Linked DNA regions of Homo sapiens. The protein of the gene in region 6 interacts with the protein of the main gene of each other region in a biochemical or structural test. Each region holds a gene or a part of one and is shown on either strand. Other genes may lie near its edges. The genes, in order: GRB2, NOTCH3, FBXO7, IKBKG, PLCG1, RET and NEDD4.

What was found.
Region 1: the proteins of RET (region 6) and GRB2 form a complex in vitro, tested with the Homo sapiens proteins (3 studies listed by BioGRID).
Region 2: the proteins of RET (region 6) and NOTCH3 form a complex in vitro, tested with the Homo sapiens proteins (one study listed by BioGRID).
Region 3: of the proteins of RET (region 6) and FBXO7, one has a biochemical effect on the other in vitro, tested with the Homo sapiens proteins (one large-scale study listed by BioGRID).
Region 4: the proteins of RET (region 6) and IKBKG form a complex in vitro, tested with the Homo sapiens proteins (one study listed by BioGRID and IntAct).
Region 5: the proteins of RET (region 6) and PLCG1 form a complex in vitro, tested with the Homo sapiens proteins (one study listed by BioGRID).
Region 7: the proteins of RET (region 6) and NEDD4 form a complex in vitro, tested with the Homo sapiens proteins (one study listed by BioGRID).

What each region holds. Positions count from the first base shown.
Region 1 is NC_000017.11:75,336,179-75,339,678, reverse strand, and holds part of GRB2 (growth factor receptor-bound protein 2), read left to right. Parts: intron 1-466; exon of another isoform or gene 467-879; intron 880-3,500. UniProt on the Homo sapiens protein: Non-enzymatic adapter protein that plays a pivotal role in precisely regulated signaling cascades from cell surface receptors to cellular responses, including signaling transduction and gene expression.
Region 2 is NC_000019.10:15,160,767-15,162,995, forward strand, and holds part of NOTCH3 (neurogenic locus notch homolog protein 3 precursor), read right to left. Parts: intron 1,797-2,229; coding exon 1,699-1,796; intron 949-1,698; coding exon 1-948. UniProt on the Homo sapiens protein: Functions as a receptor for membrane-bound ligands Jagged1, Jagged2 and Delta1 to regulate cell-fate determination.
Region 3 is NC_000022.11:32,488,311-32,491,810, forward strand, and holds part of FBXO7 (F-box only protein 7), read left to right. Parts: intron 1-2,775; coding exon 2,776-2,871; intron 2,872-3,500. UniProt on the Homo sapiens protein: Substrate recognition component of a SCF (SKP1-CUL1-F-box protein) E3 ubiquitin-protein ligase complex which mediates the ubiquitination and subsequent proteasomal degradation of target proteins and plays a role in several biological processes such as cell cycle, cell proliferation, or maintenance of chromosome stability.
Region 4 is NC_000023.11:154,554,120-154,557,619, reverse strand, and holds part of IKBKG (NF-kappa-B essential modulator), read right to left. Parts: intron 1,456-3,500; coding exon 1,244-1,455; intron 1-1,243. UniProt on the Homo sapiens protein: Regulatory subunit of the IKK core complex which phosphorylates inhibitors of NF-kappa-B thus leading to the dissociation of the inhibitor/NF-kappa-B complex and ultimately the degradation of the inhibitor.
Region 5 is NC_000020.11:41,172,043-41,175,542, forward strand, and holds part of PLCG1 (1-phosphatidylinositol 4,5-bisphosphate phosphodiesterase gamma-1), read left to right. Parts: intron 1-150; coding exon 151-247; intron 248-378; coding exon 379-603; intron 604-686; coding exon 687-835; intron 836-1,377; coding exon 1,378-1,492; coding exon of another isoform or gene 1,493-1,609; coding exon 1,610-1,771; intron 1,772-1,880; coding exon 1,881-1,969; intron 1,970-2,081; coding exon 2,082-2,269; intron 2,270-2,424; coding exon 2,425-2,467; 3' UTR 2,468-3,500. UniProt on the Homo sapiens protein: Mediates the production of the second messenger molecules diacylglycerol (DAG) and inositol 1,4,5-trisphosphate (IP3). Plays an important role in the regulation of intracellular signaling cascades.
Region 6 is NC_000010.11:43,125,569-43,129,068, forward strand, and holds part of RET (proto-oncogene tyrosine-protein kinase receptor Ret isoform a precursor), read left to right. Parts: intron 1-1,006; coding exon 1,007-1,154; coding exon of another isoform or gene 1,155-1,186; exon of another isoform or gene 1,187-2,543; coding exon 2,544-2,701; 3' UTR 2,702-3,500. UniProt on the Homo sapiens protein: Receptor tyrosine-protein kinase involved in numerous cellular mechanisms including cell proliferation, neuronal navigation, cell migration, and cell differentiation in response to glia cell line-derived growth family factors (GDNF, NRTN, ARTN, PSPN and GDF15).
Region 7 is NC_000015.10:55,840,113-55,843,612, reverse strand, and holds part of NEDD4 (E3 ubiquitin-protein ligase NEDD4), read left to right. Parts: intron 1-1,449; coding exon 1,450-1,679; intron 1,680-2,885; coding exon 2,886-3,007; intron 3,008-3,095; coding exon 3,096-3,166; intron 3,167-3,500. UniProt on the Homo sapiens protein: E3 ubiquitin-protein ligase which accepts ubiquitin from an E2 ubiquitin-conjugating enzyme in the form of a thioester and then directly transfers the ubiquitin to targeted substrates. Specifically ubiquitinates 'Lys-63' in target proteins.

The DNA.
Region 1 (3,500 bases), on a different chromosome or scaffold from region 6:
CTCCAGCCTGGGTAACAAGAGTGAAAACTGAAGCTGTCTCAAAAAAAAAAAAAAAGAAAGAAAGAAAAAGGAAAATGTATATATCATTATAGGTCAGTGAACTTTCACAAACAGAACACACCCAGGTCAGGAAATGTGAGATAAACAGCACCTCTAGAGTTCCTTCATGTCCCCTTCCATTGACTTGTACATATATATATATATTTTGAAGTAAACATAAACTCTTGGGAGGCCGAGGTGGGTGGATCAGGGGGTCAAGTGATCGAGACCATCCTGGCCAACATAGTGAAACCCCCTCTCTACTAAAAATACAAAAAAATAGCCGGGCGTGGTGGCGGGCGCCTGTAGTCCCAGCTACTCAGGAGGCTGAGGCAGGAGAATGGCGTGAACCCAGGAGGCGGAGCTTGCAGTGAGCCGAGATCGTGCCACTGCACTCCAGCCTGGGCAACAGAGCAAGACTCTGTCTCAAAAAAAAAAAAAAAACATAAACTCAGGATTTTATTGTCTTCATAATAAAACAAAAGATGACACTTAGAACTGGATCACTTGGCCCTTTCTCTTCTTATCTCCTCCCAGTTCAAAATGCTTGCATCTTTTAATAGCCAGCATTCTCTTAGATCTGCAGTTGGGCTCAACGCACTCAAGCCTTAGCACAGTCTTCTTTGTGGTTTCAGCCTTTTTCCGGAAAATCGACTTAGTCTGCCCACCATAGCCACTCTGCTTCCTGTCATAACGCCGCTTTCCCTGGGCATACAGAGAATCCTTTCCCTTCTTGTACTGTGTCACTTTGTGGGGTTGATGCTTGCCACACTTCTTAGAGAAAGTCCAGTGAATTTTAGGAAAGTTGACCATTTGCGTGAGTGCTATCAGCACAGAAAGGACTTGTATATTTTTAATTCTTCTGTGTAAAGCTCACCTCATTCCTCATCTCTTAAATTTCTTCCTGATTTGGGCTCTTAACATTATTTTCAGTCTCTTTGCAAAAAAAAACCAAAAAACAAAAAGAACTGTCTTCACTGAAACTTGTCTCTTCCTCCTCTTATAATCTCATCTCTTGATCAATCTGCTTCCGTTAAACCAAAGTGTCGTGTGGCTACAAAGTCATAACTCGAGGGAATATGGGGGTTGGAATAGAAAATGCAGCTGTGGGGTAATAGCTAAAAACATTCCTTGGAGATTTTAAAGCTGAAGGAAACTTTTTGTGAGCTCACCCGTGGATTTGTGCAGAGGGAGTGAATAAGCAAGTGAAGACACAGTGATGGGAGCAGCTTGCTCATGCTCAGGAGTCTGACTAGGCCTTTAAAAATTATTTGTGGCCGGGCACGGTGGCTCATGCCTGTAATCCCAGCACTTTGGGAGGCCAAGGTGGGCAGATCACCTGAGGCCAGGAGTTCGAGACCAGCCTGGCCAACATGGTGAAACCCCGTCTCTATGAAAAATACAAAAATTAGCTGAGCATGGTGACAGGCGCCTGTAATCCTAGCTACTCAGGAGGCCAAGGCAGGCAAATCACCTGAGGTCAGAGGTTCAAGACCAGCCTGACCAATATGGTGAAACCCCATCTCTGCTAAAAATACAAAAATTAGCCAGGCGTGGTGGCGGGTGCCTGTAATCCCAGCTACTCGAGAGGCTGAGGCAGAGAATCACTTGAACCTGGGAGGCGGAGGTTGCAGTGAGCCGAGATTGTGCCACTGCACTCCAGCCTGGGCAACAGAGTGAGACTCTGTCTCAATAAATAATAATAATAATAATAATAATAATAATAATAATAATAATAGTAGTAGTAGTAGTAGTAGTAGTAGTAGTAATAGTAGGCCGGGCGCAGTGGCTCACGCCTATAATCCCAGCACTTTTGGAGGCCGAGGCAGGCGGATCACGAGGTCAGATCAAGACCGTCCTGGCTAACACAGTGAAACCCGTCTCTACTAAAAATATAAAAAATTAGCTGGGCGTGGTTGCAGACGCCTGTAGTCCCAGCTACTCGGGAGGCTGAGGCAGGAGAATGGCCTGAACCTAGGAGGCGGACCTTGCAGTGAGCCGAGATTGTGCCACTGCACTCCAGCCTGGGCGACAGAGCGAGACTCCATCTCAAAAAAAAAAAAAAAATAGTAACAGTAATAAAATAAAAATTATTTGTGAAGGATGTGAGCTTTCACCTAAAGCCACAGCAAATGAAACAATCTTTGTAGGTGCAGCCTCATCCTCAGATGCTTCTGGTCTCTGCCACCTCGAGCTCTTCAACATTCATTTGTGTTCTTTGCTGTTTTGTTTTCTTTTTCTTTCTTTTTTTTTTTTAACCCGACACTTCAGTAGCTGTTTTGTATACTTAAACATTTGAATAAAACTTAATTTTTAAGCATCTAATTACATCACTCCAGTTTCAGGGCTTGTGTGTGCAAGCTCCCAGTGCAGGTGGAGCAGTTGGGTTGAAAGGCCTGGTCTCTGGCTCAGGGTTGCAGCTGCATTGTTCATCCTGTGTTTTGCCTCCGGCAGAACCAAGCTTTTTCTGAAATTCTAGAGTGAAGAGGTTTAGAGGTATGTGCAGCAATACCTGGGCTATCTGATAACGTGATATTCTGGATACTAGAATTTTCCAGATAACCAAAATCGTAACCATTCATGTACTCAAATGTTACATTTTTGGCCAGCATGATGGCTCACGCCTATAATCCCAGCACTTTGAGAGGCCAAGGTAGGTGGATTGCTTGAGGCCAGGAATATGAGACCAGCCTAGCCAACATGGTGAAATCCCGTGTCTGCTAAAAGTACAAAAATCAGCTGGGTATAGTGGCGCATGCCTGTAATCCCAGCTACTTGGGAGGCCGAGGCACTTGAATCACTTGAACCCGGGAAGTGGAGGTTGCAGTGAGCCGAGATCATGCCACTCCACTGCAGCCTGGGTGACAGAGCAACAGAGCAAGACTCTCTCAAAAAAAAAAATTACATTTTTAAAAGCATTAATTCCATATTTTCCTTCTTTCTGGGGGAGAAAAACATACTAAACACCAAGTAATAATTTTTGTTCTGTAGACAGCCATAGTTCTAAGTTGATGTCAAATCTAGGAGTTGCCCTGGAGTTGTGTTTGTTGGGGGAGGGGACACTTTTTAGAGGGATTTGCCTCTGTCTTGGTAAAGGTGACAAGAAGAGAGTGTAGCTCTATGAACTCCTGGCAGGTAAATAGAGTTATCTTTTTCTGCAAAGTTATTGGTCACAAATCAAAAGTGTCCCTTTCTAATGATTACTTTGTTCTGTTTTGATGCACAAATAGGTTACAAGCAGCTCTTTGTCAGTCTGACTCTCTGTCTTCCAAGAACAAGTGTATACAGTAAAAGTAGACACACCTCACCATTTCAGGAGTTAAGACATTTTCAAAAACTCTTCATAGCTGGTATGGGTGCACGCACCTGTAGTCCCAGCTACTCCAGCCTGAGCAACGTAGACTCTGTCTCTGAAATAAAATAATAAATATTGTTTATAAGCCTGTGGGGTTTTTATTATT
Region 2 (2,229 bases), on a different chromosome or scaffold from region 6:
CAGTGCCCCAGTGGTGGTGGCCATGGCCCCAGTGGCAGTGGCTGGGCTAGGCGTGGATTCGGACCAGTCTGAGAGGGAGGGAGGTGAGGGGCTGGCCCAGTGCTCAGGGGATTCGGGGGATGGGGTCAGGTAAGGGTGCTCACTGGGAACCCGCAGGAAGCGGGCCTTTGGGGGGCTGCTGTGTGCCCCAGCCGCCGGGTACTCCTCGCCATGTCCTGGGACTGCCAGGTAAGGCGGGGGCCGCTCCTGCGGGGAGACGGGGGTCCCTGGGTTGAGCAGCTGGGGTCCCGGCGCCAGTGGCAGCAGGAACGAGGGGCCTGGAGGGGCAGGTGGGGGCAGCCGGGCCCAATCGAGGGGCACAGCCACAGGGTTCAGCAGGCCCAGGCTGAGTACACATCCTCCAGGGGGCTGGCGCCCTAGACCCGCCCGGCCTGGGCCACCAAGCTGTGCCAGAGACACTGCAGTGGCAGTGGCAGCTGCATAGGGCCCCTCAAGGGGGAAGCCACCAGGGGAAGCAGGGGGCCCACCGAAAGGCCGCGGGGAGTCCAGCGAGTCCACGGGCGACAGCGTGACCGAGCTGTCAGCCAGGGGGCCCGGGCAGGCCAGCGTCAGCTTCTTGCCCCGCCCCCGGGGCCCCTGCGGCCCCAGCCCCGCCTTCCCGGGGGGCCTCCTGCTCTTCTTGGACCCCGACTGTGCCGCTTTGAGGCCAGGGAGGAAGGCCCCTGGAGGACAGAGCAGAGGCCCCAGGCCGTGGGGACCGGGGGGGCTGCGGGGCCCACTGGGTTGATCCAGCAAGCGCACGATGTCCTGGTGCAGTCTCTCCTGGGCTACGTCCCGCGGCAGCCTGTCCAGGTGGTCGGTGATCTCACGGTTGGCAAAGTGGTCCAACAGCAGCTTGGCAGCCTCATAGCTGCCCTCGCGGGCGGCCAGGAATAGGGGGGTCTCCTCCTGGGGGGCCAGAACCCACAGAGGTCAGCGAAACCCCAGCTAACAGTAGCAAAGTCTTCCAGCCTCTTGGGGGAGCCCGAGAGCTATGAGTTTGTACACTGGAGCTTGACAGACCTGGGTTAAATCCCGGCTGTGCTGGGGGAGCCTGGACAAGTTCTTTCCTCTAAACCACATTCATCCATCACCTACTAAGTGCCAGAGGTCAAGGCCAGGACTAGGGTGAGTTAAGCGAGGTACTCACCTTAGGCATAACTTTTTTTTTCTTGTCTTTTTTTTTTTTTTTTTTTGACAGAGTCTCACTGTGTCGCCCAGGCTGGAGTGCAGTGGCGCCATTTCAGTTCACTGCAACCTCAGCCTTCCGGGTTCAAGCGATTCTCCTGCCTCAGCCTCCCGAGCAGCTGGGACTACAGGTGTGCACCACTACGCCCAGCTAATTTTTGTATTTTTAATAGAGACAGGGTTTTACTACGTTGGCCAGGCTGGTCTCAAACTCCTGAACTCAAGTAATCCACCCATCTCGACCTCCCAAAGTGCTGGGATTATAGGCATGAACCACCACACCCAGCCATTAGGCACAAAATTTAAGGGGCCCCCAAAAACTTTAGTCACCAAAGTAAATTATATTTTAATCCAATGTTTGGGGTTTTATTTTGTTTTGTTTTTTGAGAGAGTCTCACTCTGTTGCCCAGGCTGGATTGCAATGGCACTGTGCCACTGCTGACACCCAGTGGACCAAGGGCTGGGGCTCACCTTGCTATCCTGCATGTCCTTATTGGCTCCATTTTTGAGCAGGGCCAAAGTGGCTTCCACGTTGTTCACAGCCGCAGCCCAGTGTAAGGCTGATTTCCCTGGAGGATGAAGGGGAGAGAGGTCAGGACCAGGCACCTGTCCTGGGGCCCCCATGTCAGGGAGGCAGAAATTGTCTAGAATGTGGCCTAGGGGTAGAGGAGGCAGGCCTGCCGTGAATATCCAAGTACTTGTGTCTGGATCCATGTGTGTGCAAATCTGCAAAATGACTCTGTGCAATGGGGAAGCACTTTGTGTCTGTGTGTGTGTGTTTGTGTGTGTGTGTGTGTGTGCGTGCATGTGCATGACTGTTTATACACAGGGGGTGCTGTGTGGACCTCCTTCAGTTGAACCTAGGGTTGTGACATCCAATACAGTAGTCAGTCACATGTGGTTTTTATTTATCCATTTATTTATTTTTGAGGTAGTGTCTTGTTCTGTCACCCAGGCTGGAGTCCATTGGCACAATCTCAGTTCACTGCAACCTCTACCTGC
Region 3 (3,500 bases), on a different chromosome or scaffold from region 6:
CTTTACCAAAGGTTTGCATTCTAGGTAAGGTTTTGCTTAAACTCTATAAAATTATTAATAGATACAAAGAAGACAGGTTTTCCCTTTTATCATTTTTCAGTTAAACCAAACTGTGAGAGGCAGTTATAGGTGGTTGGAGCAGAAGAGATAAGGTGGAGAGGGGAACTGACATTTTTTAAGTGCCTGTTTCATTCTGTACTTGTGCCTGTACATATGTTATTCCATTTAATCTTCTTAGTAAACTTAGGAGGGTTTTAAGAGCCTAGTGGGAATGTTGTGGTACAATGGGAAGATGGCATTTATAGCAGTCCTTTAGGAAAGGCTGGCTAGATTGACATTGTTGCTTTGAAGGCCTAAAGGCTTATTCTTGTTCATTCCTAGGGGAGATCAGCCCTGAGAGATTGACTTATACTAACTAAAACTGACAGGAAAAGGAGATAGCAGAATACATATTTATAACGGTCTCTGATTGGATGTAGAGTCAGAAATTGGGAATTAGCTGAATTGAATTTTTTTTTTGAGACGGAGTCTTGCTCTTTCGCCAGGCTGGAGTGCCGTGGCGCTATCTCGGCTCACTTCAACTTCCACCTCCTGGGTTCAAGCAATTCTTCTGCCTCAGCCTCCTGAGTAGATGGACTACAGGCGCACACCACCACGCCCAGCCAATTTTTTTTTATTTTTAGTAGAGACAGGGTATCACCATATTGGCCAGGCTGGTCTCGAACTCCTGACCTTGTGATCTGCCCGCCTCGGCCTCCCAAAGTGCTGGGATTACAGGCATGAGCCACTGCGCCCGACCGAGTTGAACATTTAATGTCAGACTAGGCCAGAGTTTCTCAATCTTTTTATTCTCACTTCCCAAAGGAGCCGTTGGAGATTTTCCCCTCAATCTCTCTCCTTCATGAAATTTCATACCACAAATATAGTATGTTTTATTTATGTACTGTGACCCTTTGAAGGATCACAAACCAATATAATAGTTTTTCTTTTTAACCCGTCAAGGACCAGTTTTTGCCCCTGTTGGAAATGCATAAACTGGACTGATGAATTGGTATAGATGGCTTTTATCATGAGGATCAGAAAAACTTGAAATTCCTTGGCTACGACACTCCATATTTATCACCGTATAGGGAGGACCTTGTTATGGGGAGTAGAAACACTCTACACTTTACAGCAGTAGAGGTTTTATGCCCATTTTATAGATCAGGAAACAGATCTAGAGGAGGCTCACTTACTTAAGGGTCACAGAGCCAATAAATGGTGAAATACAGGATAGGAATAGATTTGGCTGACTCCCAGCCTTTTAAAACAACTTTTACAGGAATGTAGCTCAGATTGTTATTCTTTATCTGGTTTCTCTTAAATAAAGAAAAATGAAATGGAAGGGAGGAGGAACATTAAATACTGTTAAATTACAAGTTTATGGACTGTTATAATGAAGTATTTTTAATAAAGTCTTATGTTGAGTAGGAATATGCTGCTCATTTGGCAAGTCATTTTAATGAATTTTTACTGTGGTTCATAGCACCTAGTAACTATAACTAGGCACTGTTATTTATCCTTTTATTTATAAGTTCCTAATTAAATAGTTACATACCAGGTTGCTGAAGGAAAACATTCATTTAAAGAAAATCAATTTTCACATTTGAAAAAAGCCCTTGAGCCAAATTGATTTTAAAGAATGATATCTTGACAGCAAATTTCAACTCAAGATTGCAAGTCACACAACAAAGATTTAGACATTAGCTGCATATCTCTTTCCTTCTTCTTATCGATCCTGTTATACTGAGTGTTTTATTTGTTATAGATAGTGAAATACATAAATATGAAATGGGGAAGGAGCAAGCATAAATTGCCTACTGATACCCTAGGCACTGCTCGTGGAGCTTTCAATTATAACAACGCTTATCTGGTGTAGTGGTGGTGTCTCCTTTAAACAGTTGAGCAAAAAGGTGAGGATCAGAGGGGCAGGTTATTTGTCCAAGGCTATACACTTGGTAAATAGCAAAACAAGTGGGAACCTCGGCTGCAGTTTGCTAGTGCGTCCGTACTTTACTATGAGTCACCTGGGGATCTTATTAAAATATAGGTTCTGATTTGGTAGGTCTGTGGGGGCCTGAGATTCAGTAGTTCTAAACAGTTCCAGGTATTGTCAGTTCTGGTGATCTGTCGCCCACATGTTGAGTAGCAGTGTGGTGACTAAAAATGAGTGCTTTTGAGCCACACGGACTTGGGTTTGTGCACTGTTCTGCCACTAACCATGGGGCCTTGGACAGGCTTTCTGTACCTTGACCTGTTTTTAAAATGGAGATAGTAATTAGGAAAGAACTTCTGATGTGAAAGCTTGAAAAACGCTTGACACAGGTGCTGATACATAGTCATCATGCGATAAATGCTATTAATTTACCAGGTTCTAAGCGTTAACAGGAGCAGTTCTCCACTGTATCCTTAGTGCCCAGAACAGATTGATAGCTATCAGGAAATCTTCGTATGTATGAATCTCTCACAAGTCTTTTCTACAACTGCAGCCTATGAGCTAGAGAGGTTGGGCACAGCTCTACTAATTTGATATCATGGAATTTTTAGCTTTTATATCTAAGATTCAGTTTCATCAAGTCTTGCACTGTACTTCTTCCATGAGGGAATTTGGTTCATGCTTATCTTTGTGAATTATTTGTGAATATTTATTCACCATGTTGATTGGGTTTGGCAGAAATAGAGGACAGTTTTTTCACTTGATTTTGGGTTTTGATTTTACTTTAAAAAATATTCTAGGGGAAAATGTAGCCAACATATACAAAGATCTTCAGAAACTCTCTCGCCTCTTTAAAGACCAGCTGGTGTATCCTCTTCTGGCTTTTACCCGACAAGGTAAGAGATGAAATACTGTCACAATTTAAATGACTGTAAAGAATAGTAAGTATACTTAATATTCTTGGTGAGTATGACATCTGACTGCCCTCTTTTCTGCTCCTGGCGAAATGTTCCTCTTCTAAGACTAAGCTTAATATTCCTTAAGTGCTATTTACTTTATCTTTGTATCTCCATGCCATTTTGTACATATTTTTATTGTAGTCTCTTTTCCATGGACTATAATTGTTGATATGATTTCTTTCCACCTAAGGTTGGGAATACCTTGAAGGTAGGGAATATATCTTACTTTTGTATTCTTGTGGTCTAGCATGAGGTCAGGTACATAATAGATGCTCTTTCTCTCTGTGTAGATACATATATATATGTCTATATAGACATATATTTAGATATATATGTCTATATAGACATATATTTAGATATATATGTCTATATAGACATATATAAATAATACATGGTCTGTAATTGGATCTAAGTTTTTTTTTTTAAACCATTTATTGGAGGCTCTTTGCAGGCACTTAGTTGGATATTTCACATGCATTCTTATTTACTGCTAATGACTTCGAAGTAAATTATGTGGTACTTATTTTATAGATGATGAAATCATAATTCAATAAGGTTTATAATTC
Region 4 (3,500 bases), on a different chromosome or scaffold from region 6:
ACACGGCTGGCCTCGCGGCAAGGACGCTGGCTGCCCCGTCATCTTTCACCTGAGCCTGCACTCGCCCCCTCCCGACTCCCTCCTTCTCCCTTCGCAAGGCCAGGCCGCCTCTGCTGGGGCGGGAACGGAGCTCAGCTCTCTCCCCCGCAAGCAGGGGTTTCTGAAGAAGATCTCTTTTGCCAGCTTGAACAAAGGCCCGCTTTTGTGTACCTTTGTGTATCTCCGGTGTTCTTGTCAAAAGAGGAGGACAGGCACAGAGGCCCGCGGGGACAAGGCCACAGGATGACGGAGATGGAGGCTGGAGAGGTGCAGCCGGCGGCCCCCGGCGCCGTGGAGAGGCCTGGAAGGCAGCTCCCTCGCGGCCCTGGCGGGGAGCCCACCCTGCCGACACCACCGCTAGCTCAGCCTCCAGGCCTCCAGAAGCGGGAGGCCACGCGTTTCTGTGGCTTCGGCCCCGCAGTCTGTGGTGCTTGGTCACGGCAGCTGTAGAAAACTCATCCACTTCCCACACAGGAAATCAACGCCTTAAGCCAGGCGCTCTAAGCCCTGAGTGGAGCGGCGTGCACAGCCCACCATCCACGCCTTTCCCCAGGGGAGTGGAGCCTGGCTGTGGCAAGTGCCAGGTACCCGCCAGCAAGTCTCCTCTCCAGCACTTCTCTCCACCTTGCCCCTCAAAGGGAGCACGGCCCCTTCCTGACTACCATCGCCAGGATCCTGCGATCAGCCAAGCCCACACACAAAGACCCTGAAACCAGGCGGTCTGTGCTAATGACACGATTTATGGGGGGAGCCTTGGGCCACACAGCTGGACCTCTGGTGGCTACAGCCGAGTGACCAGGGTTGGCCACGCAGGCGCTCGGTGCCCACGCGGCCCACCCCCCGTGAAAACCCCGGCCGCCACGGCTGGGGTGAGCTTCCCGGTTGTGACTCCGTGCTCGCTGTCCCACACTGTTGCCGAAAGAAACAGGTGCCGTCTGCACAACTCCCCTGGGCGAGGAGCCGCTGAAGCTCACGCCTGGTCTCTCCTGGAGCCCGCCCTGTGCGCCCTGAGCCTTCGCTCACCGTAACCTGTGTCCTTTCCTTGTAATAAACCGGAACTGGGAGTGTGACGGCTTTTCTGAGTTCCGAGCCCTCCCGGCACAGCACTGAGCCCCAGGGTGCTTTGGGGGACCCCGACCACGGGTTCCCTTGTGGAACACTGGCGTCACCGCGGGTTTTCAGAACCTGGCCCTGCCCCGACTACCTGCTGGCATCTCTTCAGGTGCTCCACCTCCCGCAGAGCCTGCTCCTTCTGCCTCTTCAGATCGAGCTTCTCCAGGCCGAGTCTCTCCACCAGTTTCCTGGCCTCCTGGAACTTGCACATGAGGAACTCCTTCTCCTCCCTCTGGCTGGCTTGGAAATGCAGAAGCTCCTCGCAGCGCTCCCGCAGAATCTGGTTGCTCTGCCGGATGGCATCTGGTGGCAGAGGGGACAGTGGAGGGGAGCTGGGCAGCCCGGCCTGCCGGGCCCTGCCTGGGCCCACATGGGCCTGAGGCTCAGGAAGTCAGAGGCCAGAAGTGGGGCCACCCATCCTGGTGCCCCCACCCGCCATAATACCACGCAGCTTCTCTCAGGGGTGGATGGCGTCTCAACACTCCCTTTTGTTTCTTTAAACACTTCCAAAATCCTTTACACTAATGCCCCTCACTTTCTGCAAGAAAATAACACCAAACACATCAGCTTCACTTAAAAGTACGTGTTGGCCAGGCACTGTGGCTCATGCCTGTAATCCCAGCACTTTGGGAGGCCAAGGTGGGTGGATCACCTGAGGTCAGGAGCTCCAGACCAGCTTGGCCAACATGGTGAAACCCCGTCTCTAATAAAAATACAAAAATTAGCCCGGTGTGGTGGCACACGCCTGTAATCCCAGCTACTTGGGAGGCTAAGGCAGGAGAAGCACTTGAACCTGGGAGGTGGAGGTTGCAGTGAGCCGAGATCACACCATTGCACTCCAGCCTGGGGGACAGAGCAAAACTCTGTCTCAAAAAAAAGAAAAAAAGTATGTGTTAAATGCCACTTTTTTGAATTTTTATTTTTGTAGAGACAAGGTCTTGCTATGTTGCCCAGGCTGGTCTCACATCGTTGGCCTCAAGCAATCCTCCCACCTCGGCCTCCGAAAGTGCTGGGATTATAGGCATGGGCCACTGTGCCTGGCCTTATGCCACTTTGTTTGTAAGTGACTCGAATTCATTTGTATTCTGGTCAGTCTGAGGTGTGCCTGCCCTCAGATGCTCGGTATTGGTCCTCCCTGGCCTACATCTCTGCTGTCTTCTAGATCGGGGGTCCTAACACGCCTGCAGACTCCTAGGGTCAGCCTCCCAGGCAAACTTCACTGCAGCATTGCTGGCTGCAGCCTGAGAGGCCCAAAAGGCTTGGACCAGGCAAGTTAGTGGCGTCTCTGAGCCTCAAAGTCCTCATCTGCATAGTGAACAGAGACAAGAACATTCATCTTACAAGACGAGGAGGGTTAAACGAGGAAGCAGAAAACAAACGGGAAAAACCGCTGGTCCTCCCCTCACCAGAGCATGTGTGCCAGTGCCAGGCAGTCAGCAGAGGCCACAGGAAGGAGAGCCCCACACCCAGGAGACACCCCAAGTAGTGAAGAAGCCATCTGAGGTGACAAAACTGATAAGTGATGTGCCAAGGTTCTAGCAACTCTATAGCAACTACAGAGCTGGATAAAATGGGGCAGGCAGTAGCTACCCCGTGATCAAAACCCTCAACCAACTAACTATTGCCTGCTGACGAGCGCAACATCCACCCCCCATCAGAATCCCGCTTGCTCTGCCCAAAGCTCAGCTCATCTGCAACTTGTCTTTTTTTTTGAGACAGACTCTCGCTCTGTCGCCCAGGCTGGAGTGCAGTGGCGCGATCTCAGCTCACTGCAACCTCCACCTCCTGGGTTCAAGCAATTCTCCCTGCCTCAGCCTCCCAAGTAGCTGGGATTATAGGTGCCCGCCACCACGTCTGTAGCTAATTTTTGTAGTAGAGATGGGGTTTCACCATGTTGGCCAAGCTGGTCTCAAACTCCTGACCTCAGGTGATCCCCCCGCCTGGGCCTCCCAAAGTGCTCGGATTACAGGCATGAGCCACTGCACCTGGCTGGCAACTTGTCTTTTAAAAAATGTTCTGAACTGAGGTAAAATTCACATGACATCAAATTCACTATTTTAACTAATTCAGCAGTTTTCGGTGTATCCATCAGGTTGTGCAACCATCCGCACTATCTAATTCCAGAACAGTTCCGGGACCCCATAAGCAGTCGCTCCCCCAGCACCCTCCTCATCTGCATCTGCCTCTGCAGATTGGCCACTTCTGGACATGTCTCACACTAGTGGAGTCACACACTAGAGACATGCAACTTCTTCGTGAATCTCTCCCTCAACATTCTAAGTACAGCCTCCTCCATGGACATAAGCATGTACATCTTGGGGGACAGACATCTTCTGGGCCCTTAGGGG
Region 5 (3,500 bases), on a different chromosome or scaffold from region 6:
ACTGTTGGGTGTGGTGTCTGGAAGGTACAGGGGAAGGTGGGAGAGGGGCCCAGAGCACCTGCAGTGTGGGCATGCCCAAGGTTGGCAGGGGCTTCCTTCTCCTGGGCAGGGCTGTAGCCTGGGGCTACAGGGCCTTGTGTGTGTCACCAGCTCACTGAAGGGAAGATAATGGAACGGAGGAAGAAGATTGCCCTGGAGCTCTCTGAACTTGTCGTCTACTGCCGGCCTGTTCCCTTTGATGAAGAGAGTAAGGGCCAGGGCCCAGGCGGGGTGTGCATGTGCCTGGAGGGCCTGGTGGGTGCAAAAAGAGTATTTAGGTATCCCCCCAACACTTCCTGGGTGGGCGGGCTCTGTAAGTGTTTTCCCTGTTTGGCCCAGAGATTGGCACAGAACGTGCTTGCTACCGGGACATGTCATCCTTCCCGGAAACCAAGGCTGAGAAATACGTGAACAAGGCCAAAGGCAAGAAGTTCCTTCAGTACAATCGACTGCAGCTCTCCCGCATCTACCCCAAGGGCCAGCGACTGGATTCCTCCAACTACGATCCTTTGCCCATGTGGATCTGTGGCAGTCAGCTTGTGGCCCTCAACTTCCAGACCCCTGGTGAGGAAGTCCCCTGTGAGGAGGGTGAGGAGGGGCACTGTGGGGCAGCTGGACTGGAATACACCATAATCTGCCTCTTCCAGACAAGCCTATGCAGATGAACCAGGCCCTCTTCATGACGGGCAGGCACTGTGGCTACGTGCTGCAGCCAAGCACCATGCGGGATGAGGCCTTCGACCCCTTTGACAAGAGCAGCCTCCGCGGGCTGGAGCCATGTGCCATCTCTATTGAGGTGGGTGCTGCTCATCTGGGCTTCAGGGTAGGAAAGGGGCTGCTTGCCGTTGGAGTCTGTTTATGTTGAGTTCTCCAAAAGTAGGTATTTTCAGGCATCAAGGTGGTCAGGGTGGGTGGGGCCTGAGCTGAGTCTTTGAAGGGGTGAAGATAGCATGCAGTCACTGTATGCATCTAGGACGTGCAGAGCCATGGTGTGACTTGTTCTGATGACTTGTTTTGTTCTGATGAGATCTTTTTTTTCCCTAAGGGGAGGTCATTTAAAAGATTTCTGTGTTAAAATAGTAATGGATTTAACATGAAGTAGATTGCAAAACTCACATGGAAATTTTGGCTAAAGCTCAGACTTCAGATAAACTACAGGCAGCAGCTGCTCTGGACAGCTTAGGGTCCCTGATGTCGTGAGGGACTCCATGGGCAGTGTCCCGGGGGCCCAGCAGAGGGCGCGCTGCCTCCACTCCACAGATGCTGACTGAGCCTCCGCAGTGGGGAATTGGAGGGAGCAGGAAGGACAATCCCAGGCCCTTCTTTGTCTGCCTACAGGTGCTGGGGGCCCGACATCTGCCAAAGAATGGCCGAGGCATTGTGTGTCCTTTTGTGGAGATTGAGGTGGCTGGAGCTGAGTATGACAGCACCAAGCAGAAGACAGAGTTTGTGGGTCAGTCTGTCTTCCCAGTCATCCTCCTCATCCTGCTGGGGCACTGCAAGCCTCTCCCCACCAGTCATCCCATCCTCTCCCACGGTGACCTGAAGCCTTTTGTCGTTGCCTTCACAGTGGACAATGGACTCAACCCTGTATGGCCAGCCAAGCCCTTCCACTTCCAGATCAGTAACCCTGAATTTGCCTTTCTGCGCTTCGTGGTGTATGAGGAAGACATGTTTAGTGACCAGAATTTCCTGGCTCAGGCTACTTTCCCAGTAAAAGGCCTGAAGACAGGTGAGGACCATTCCTGGAGGCAGTGCCCCTGCAATCTTGCTGGCAGGGTGGGGCTGGGCCCCTTGCTCTGTCCCTCGTGGGCTGAGGGCCAGGCTTTTCCTCCTCCTAGGATACAGAGCAGTGCCTTTGAAGAACAACTACAGTGAGGACCTGGAGTTGGCCTCCCTGCTGATCAAGATTGACATTTTCCCTGCCAAGGTATCTGCAGCAGGGGTGGGCTGGCCTGGGGTAGGTGGGAGGAGAGCCAGGCAGCAGCCTCTAGAAGTGCAGAGGAGTCATTGACCCTCTTGTGCACCTGGCTTCGTTGAAGCAGGAGAATGGTGACCTCAGTCCCTTCAGTGGTACGTCCCTGCGGGAGCGGGGCTCAGATGCCTCAGGCCAGCTGTTTCATGGCCGAGCCCGGGAAGGCTCCTTTGAATCCCGCTACCAGCAGCCGTTTGAGGACTTCCGCATCTCCCAGGAGCATCTCGCAGACCATTTTGACAGTCGAGAACGAAGGTGAGGAAGATGGAGGGGTGCTAGAGCCAGGAAGGCAGTGGCTAGGTCCTCCTTCTTCAGTGTTTCTTTCTCCTGGGTAGAAAAGTTGTAATATTGTCTGGCATTGGGCTGCAAGGCCCTGCCTGCCAGTAAGGACACTCTTCCCTTCTGTCCAGGGCCCCAAGAAGGACTCGGGTCAATGGAGACAACCGCCTCTAGTTGTACCCCAGCCTCGTTGGAGAGCAGCAGGTGCTGTGCGCCTTGTAGAATGCCGCGAACTGGGTTCTTTGGAAGCAGCCCCCTGTGGCGGCCTTCCGGGTCTCGCAGCCTGAAGCCTGGATTCCAGCAGTGAATGCTAGACAGAAACCAAGCCATTAATGAGATGTTATTACTGTTTTGGGCCTCCATGCCCCAGCTCTGGATGAAGGCAAAAACTGTACTGTGTTTCGCATTAAGCACACACATCTGGCCCTGACTTCTGGAGATGGATCCTTCCATCTTGTGGGGCCAGGACCATGGCCGAAGCCCCTTGGAGAGAGAGGCTGCCTCAGCCAGTGGCACAGGAGACTCCAAGGAGCTACTGACATTCCTAAGAGTGGAGGAGGAGGAGGAGCCTTGCTGGGCCAGGGAAACAAAGTTTACATTGTCCTGTAGCTTTAAAACCACAGCTGGGCAGGGTGAGAAGCTAGATGCCCCTGCAGTTTGGCCCTGGAGCCAGGGCAGAGGAATGTAGGGCCTGCATGGAGAAGGGTTCTGCCCTGCCTGAGGAGGAGGACACAGCACAAGGGCACATTGCCCATGGCTGGGAACATGACCCAGCCTGAAAGATACAGGGGATCATGTTAAAAATAGCAGTATTATTTTTCGTCTCAATGGTATTGTAACTAAGTTATTTACTCCTCCTGCTCCTCACCCCTGTAGGGAAACCTTGGAGAGGAGAGTGGCAGGTGGGCTGCCTGCTGTGTTAAGAGGACTTAGTTTGTGATGTAAGGCACTGTCAGGAATGGGGGGCGGGCCAGGGTGGGAAGAGAAGAAATAGCAGAGCCTATTTTGGTGAGGTTTTTTGTTTTTAAGTCAAAGAAGACTCAGTATGCTTTCCCTGAGGAATGAAAAAGGGATTGAGGAGTTGCCTGACTCCTGGGTGGGTGGGGTACAGGCAGTTAGGTGCTGAATGAAGCTGCCATCCTTGCTGCAGCTTCTAACTGGTAAAAAGATCCAGGGATGGAGATGGGAAGGTTAGAAAGGCAGCCCT
Region 6 (3,500 bases):
GGGGTGGCCAGAGTCAGCCTGTGTGCCTGGAAGTACAGTTTGTGAGGTCTACACATTTTCAACCAATATTCATCAGGCAGCTGCTAGGACCCATACTATGTCTCAGAGGCTGGGAATGCAGATAAACAAGACCAGCACAGCCCTGCCCTCACGGGGTTTACACACAGGCCTTGTCTTAACATTGGCACATTTACTGAGTTGTCACTTCTTCCGACTTGGATAGCGGGATGCAGGACCTAGGACCCCATAGGAAAACTTCACATCACTGTCTCGCTTGGATGAAAACTTCAAGTCCTGAGAATGCAGCGTTGTTCAAAACAGAAGCGATCACTGGTGCTGGCCTTCCTAGAACAGTGCTGAGAAACAGCCGGGAAAACGCTGGGCCCCTCTGTGCACATTCAAGCTGGGCATTGAAAGGAGCAGACGCCAGTGGCCCCTCGTGCTGGGGAGCCCGTGCCTGTAGCAGGGTCCTGTGCACCCTGACAGCGCTGTCAGATTTCAGAACTCAGCCCTGACGTGACGTTCTAGATGGCAGGGGTCCTTGGGGAAAGCTGGAAAACATCCTGCAGGCTGGGGCTGCGTCCTGGCATGTGGCTGCAGTGGGCTCCCCCAGAGCCCAAGGGTTTGTCAGCGGGCTGGTTCCGTGCTGCCCATCTCCGGGTTGGGCCAGGGGCAGCTAGATGAGGCGTCCCCCAAGGCTGCCCTCCAGGCCCTGGAGATAAGACGCTGAGGGAGCACATTTCTTTCCCCAGGGAGGTGACTTTCCAGGGGAAGAGACAGAATAGACAACACCCAGGGGAGTGATGGGGACCTCAGAGCAGGACCAGGCCAGCCAGGAGTCCTGGGAGCTCTATGCAGCCTGGCCCTGGTCTCTTGGAGAGGTCAGGAGATTGGTGCGAGGTGGAGACACAGCCAGAGCCTCTGCCCTGAGGATGGCTTGTTGTATACTGAGTTGTATCTAGTTGTGGCACATGGCTTGGAGTGACCGGCCATCTCTGTCTTCCAGGACTACTTGGACCTTGCGGCGTCCACTCCATCTGACTCCCTGATTTATGACGACGGCCTCTCAGAGGAGGAGACACCGCTGGTGGACTGTAATAATGCCCCCCTCCCTCGAGCCCTCCCTTCCACATGGATTGAAAACAAACTCTATGGTAGAATTTCCCATGCATTTACTAGATTCTAGCACCGCTGTCCCCTTTGCACTATCCTTCCTCTCTGTGATGCTTTTTAAAAATGTTTCTGGTCTGAACAAAACCAAAGTCTGCTCTGAACCTTTTTATTTGTAAATGTCTGACTTTGCATCCAGTTTACATTTAGGCATTATTGCAACTATGTTTTTCTAAAAGGATGTGAAAATAAGTGTAATTACCACATTGCCCAGCAACTTAGGATGGTAGAGGAAAAAACAGATCAGGGCGGAACTCTCAGGGGAGACCAAGAACAGGTTGAATAAGGCGCTTCTGGGGTGGGAATCAAGTCATAGTACTTCTACTTTAACTAAGTGGATAAATATACAAATCTGGGGAGGTATTCAGTTGAGAAAGGAGCCACCAGCACCACTCAGCCTGCACTGGGAGCACAGCCAGGTTCCCCCAGACCCCTCCTGGGCAGGCAGGTGCCTCTCAGAGGCCACCCGGCACTGGCGAGCAGCCACTGGCCAAGCCTCAGCCCCAGTCCCAGCCACATGTCCTCCATCAGGGGTAGCGAGGTTGCAGGAGCTGGCTGGCCCTGGGAGGACGCACCCCCACTGCTGTTTTCACATCCTTTCCCTTACCCACCTTCAGGACGGTTGTCACTTATGAAGTCAGTGCTAAAGCTGGAGCAGTTGCTTTTTGAAAGAACATGGTCTGTGGTGCTGTGGTCTTACAATGGACAGTAAATATGGTTCTTGCCAAAACTCCTTCTTTTGTCTTTGATTAAATACTAGAAATTTTTTCTGTTTCCTAACTTCATCATTGATTGTTTGAAATCTTGGAGTTTCAAGCATTTTTTTCAAGCTGAGACGGTTCCTTTTGCATGCCTCCTGACTCACTGACTCCTCACTGGCTTTGTGTCTAGTGCCACACTCCATTTGTGCTGACGATGCTATGAGGCTGGCCCGTGTGCACCCTCGATTTGGAAGGTCCTCTTCTCCGTTGTAGGCTCAGACAACAGACGAGTGCCTCCTTTACGTTAGAGAATGTTTTATAGAACGTTTCCGCTGCAGTAAGCCATTGAGTGCAGCAGTGTGCTGTTGCCCTACACTGCCTTAGAAAAAGAGTTAAGCAGTTCGACAAATATACATCAGATTAGAGAGTCTCAAGTTCATAAAAGTCAAAATTGGTAGTGTCTGTTAAGTTACATTTACCAAGAGAGCACATGATATTTCCCCTAACTATAACAGTGTTTTTGGAAACCTGGAACACAAAACCATTAATATAATTGGCACAGAAACCACGAGTTTGGTTTGAACATCAAAGGGAGTTTTGCCAAGGCCTTACTGTCTGCACTTGAAGTTTTGGTTCTTCAGTGCAGAACAAATGATCTGTTTTCATTTTTAGGCATGTCAGACCCGAACTGGCCTGGAGAGAGTCCTGTACCACTCACGAGAGCTGATGGCACTAACACTGGGTTTCCAAGATATCCAAATGATAGTGTATATGCTAACTGGATGCTTTCACCCTCAGCGGCAAAATTAATGGACACGTTTGATAGTTAACATTTCTTTGTGAAAGGTAATGGACTCACAAGGGGAAGAAACATGCTGAGAATGGAAAGTCTACCGGCCCTTTCTTTGTGAACGTCACATTGGCCGAGCCGTGTTCAGTTCCCAGGTGGCAGACTCGTTTTTGGTAGTTTGTTTTAACTTCCAAGGTGGTTTTACTTCTGATAGCCGGTGATTTTCCCTCCTAGCAGACATGCCACACCGGGTAAGAGCTCTGAGTCTTAGTGGTTAAGCATTCCTTTCTCTTCAGTGCCCAGCAGCACCCAGTGTTGGTCTGTGTCCATCAGTGACCACCAACATTCTGTGTTCACATGTGTGGGTCCAACACTTACTACCTGGTGTATGAAATTGGACCTGAACTGTTGGATTTTTCTAGTTGCCGCCAAACAAGGCAAAAAAATTTAAACATGAAGCACACACACAAAAAAGGCAGTAGGAAAAATGCTGGCCCTGATGACCTGTCCTTATTCAGAATGAGAGACTGCGGGGGGGGCCTGGGGGTAGTGTCAATGCCCCTCCAGGGCTGGAGGGGAAGAGGGGCCCCGAGGATGGGCCTGGGCTCAGCATTCGAGATCTTGAGAATGATTTTTTTTAAATCATGCAACCTTTCCTTAGGAAGACATTTGGTTTTCATCATGATTAAGATGATTCCTAGATTTAGCACAATGGAGAGATTCCATGCCATCTTTACTATGTGGATGGTGGTATCAGGGAAGAGGGCTCACAAGACACATTTGTCCCCCGGGCCCACCACATCATCCTCACGTGTTCGGTACTGAGCAGCCACTACCCC
Region 7 (3,500 bases), on a different chromosome or scaffold from region 6:
CTTCTTTTTTGGAGGTGACAGAATATTGATGGCATGTTTTCTCTTACTGGTTTCCCCTGGAAATTTGCCCATGAAGTACTGAGGAATAAAATATTTAGATATATCTTTTGTAAAATTTACAATAAGTTCTGCCTAAAGCATAGTTGTGTACATTTGTCACATAAGCAAAGAACGTACAAAAGATTAGTGAGGCAATGTAGCTCCATTAATTAAGAGCACAGACTCAGGAGCTAAGACTTTCTTAAGTCGTCTTCTTCAGTTTTATGTGTAAAATGAAGACAATAATAGTAGCTTTCGCATAGTGTTGTTATGAGGTTAAACACGTTAACCTGCCATTCCAGGGTACCCATGCCTGGCTGTTTTAGTCCGTTTTCATGCTGCTGATAAAGACATACCTGAGACCAGGCAATTTACAAAAGGAAGAGGTTTATTGGACCTACAGTTCTACATGGCTAGGGAGGCCTCACAATCATGGCAGAAGGCAAGGAGGAGCAAGTCACATCTTACATGGATGGCAGCAGGCAAAGAGAGAGCTTGTGCATAGAAACCATTAGATGTCGTGAGACCCATTCACTATCATGAGAACAGTGCAGGAAAGATCCGCCCCCATAATTCAATCACCTCCCACCAGGTTCTTCCCATGACACATGGAGATTGTGGGAGTTACAATTCAAGATTAGATTTGGGTAGGGACACAGCCAGAATATATCACTGGCACAGTCTGTAAATGTCACCATCTGTTAATGAGTGAAGCAAGATAGACTCCAGGGAGGAAAGTAGAGGTAGGGAAAAGCCTGAACAGACAGGCACAACAGCTAGCAGGCAGTGGCTATCCTACAGGTCACAGAACGGTGTTCATTGGAACTTAATATGAAAAGGACTGTTAACGAAATGCCTTCATGGGGGCATTACCATCACCATCAATTGCTTCTTTAGGCCGGGTGCCATGGCTTATGCCTGTAATCTCAGCACTTTGGGAGGCCAAGGCGGGAGGATTGCTAGAGCTTAGGAGTTTGAGACCAGCCTGGGCAAGATGGCAAGACCTCAAAAACTTAAAAAATTAGTCAGGCATGATGGCATGCGCCTGTGGTCCAGTTACTTAGGAATCGGAAGCAAGAGGATCACTTGAGCCCATGAGGTCGAGGCTGCAGTAAGCCATGTTCACGCCACTGCACTCCAGCCTGGACTACAGAGCTGTCTCCAAAAACAAAAGCTTCTTCAGATGTAAAGAAGTCTATATTACTAAGTGATTAAAGAAAATGCAGAAACTGTCTCATACCATAGAGGAAACCAAGACAATATACCTAGTTGTGTTTTCCCTGAGTATATTACGTAAGGAAAAAGAGACTTGGACACAGGGTGTAGAGGGAATGTTATAACTTTATGAGAGATGGGTTTGTTATTATGTTGAACTGATTTAAACAGTACGTCTCTCCTCTGGATTTTCAGAATGACATTCCAAACAAATTTGAAATGAAACTTCGCCGAGCAACTGTTCTTGAAGACTCTTACCGGAGAATTATGGGTGTCAAGAGAGCAGACTTCCTGAAGGCTCGACTGTGGATTGAGTTTGATGGTGAAAAGGGATTGGATTATGGAGGAGTTGCCAGAGAATGGTTCTTCCTGATCTCAAAGGAAATGTTTAACCCTTATTATGGGTTGTTTGAATATTCTGCTACGTAAGTACCTTTACAATGATTATCGGCAGAAAAAGAAAAATCACTGTTTTAAAAGTAAGAGTCGGCCGGGTGCAGTGGCTCATGCCTGTAATCCCAGCACTTTGGGAGGCCGAGGCGGGCGGATCACAAGGTCAGGATATCGAGACCATCCTAGCTAACACGGTGAAACCCCGTCTCTACTAAAAATACAAAAACTTACCCAGGCGTGGTGGCGGGCGCCTGTAGTCCCAGCTACTCAGGAGGCTGAGGCAGGAGAATGGCGTGAACCCGGAAGGCGGAGCCGAGATCACGCCACTGCACTCCAGCCTGGGCAACAGAGCAAGACTCCTCTAAAAAAAAAAGTTACCATTTTAGCCATTTTAAATATACAATTTAGAGTCATTACATACATTCACATTGTTGTGCTGCCATCCCACTATCCAACTCTAGAACTTTTTCATCTTCCCAAAATGAAACCCTATACCCAGTAAGCACTCGCTCCCCATTCCCTGGCAGCCACCATTCTGCTTTCTGTCCCTATGAATTTGACTCCTCGGGTACCTCACATAAGTGGAATCATTCAATATTTGTCTTTTTGTGACCAGCTCATTTCACTTAACATGATGTCTTCAGGGTTCATCCATGTTGTAGTATGTATCAGAATGTCCTTCCTTTTTAAGGCAGAATAATATTCCATTATTTTTGCATATAATGCTTTGTTTAGGCTGGGCGTGGTGGCTCATGCCTGTAATCCCACCACTTTGGGAGGCCAAGGCTGGTGGATCACAATGCCAGGAGTTCAAGACCAGCCTGACCAACATAGTGAAACCCTGTCTCTACTAAAAATACAAAAATTAACCAGGCATGGTGGCGGGCGCCTGTAATTCCAGCTACTTGGGAGGCTGAGACAGGAGAATCACTTGAACCTGGGAGGCGGAGGTTGCAGTGAGCTGTGACCGTGTCATTGCACTCCAGCCTGGGCGAGAGCAAGACTCCATCTCAAAAACAAACGAACAAACAAAACTTTGTTTATACATTCATCTGCCAAAGGACATTTGGGTTATTTCCACTTTTTGACAGAAATTACTATTTTTAAAACCATTAAATCCAGTGGAGGAATGTGGTTCTAACAGTGGTAAACAACTCTTAAAGGAGGAAGATTATTTGTAATTATTTGTCATATTAAAGTTTTTCAAATGAAGTATTTAAATGGGGTTGTCTTTACAGGGACAATTATACCCTACAGATAAATCCAAACTCTGGATTGTGTAACGAAGATCACCTCTCTTACTTCAAGTTTATTGGTCGGGTAGCTGGAATGGCAGTTTATCATGGCAAACTGTTGGATGGTTAGTATTAAGTATAAACTTTTTACAATATAATTACCTGTTTTCTTTCACTTGGTAATCATCCTAAATGTATTTGGTTTTTTGCAAGGTTTTTTCATCCGCCCATTTTACAAGATGATGCTTCACAAACCAATAACCCTTCATGATATGGAATCTGTGGTATGTCTTTTTCACTTATAGTATAGACGAAGTATAATTTAACAAGCAGCTTGAACATTTTGAAGAATTTGCTTTTAATGACATGGAAATTAATATATTATCATGTTTCAAAATACAAATGAACTTTTTCCTCAACATTTTATTATGAAAATTTTCTAACATATAATAAAGTTGGAAGAATTTTACATTGGACAGTTGTATATCAACTACTCACAATTGCTTTTTTTCTAGATTTACTTTATCACATACCTATCTGTCTATCCATCAGTCTGTCTTAGTTTCTTCATGCATTTCAGAGTAAGTTATAGATAACATTAAACATCCCACTAAATAC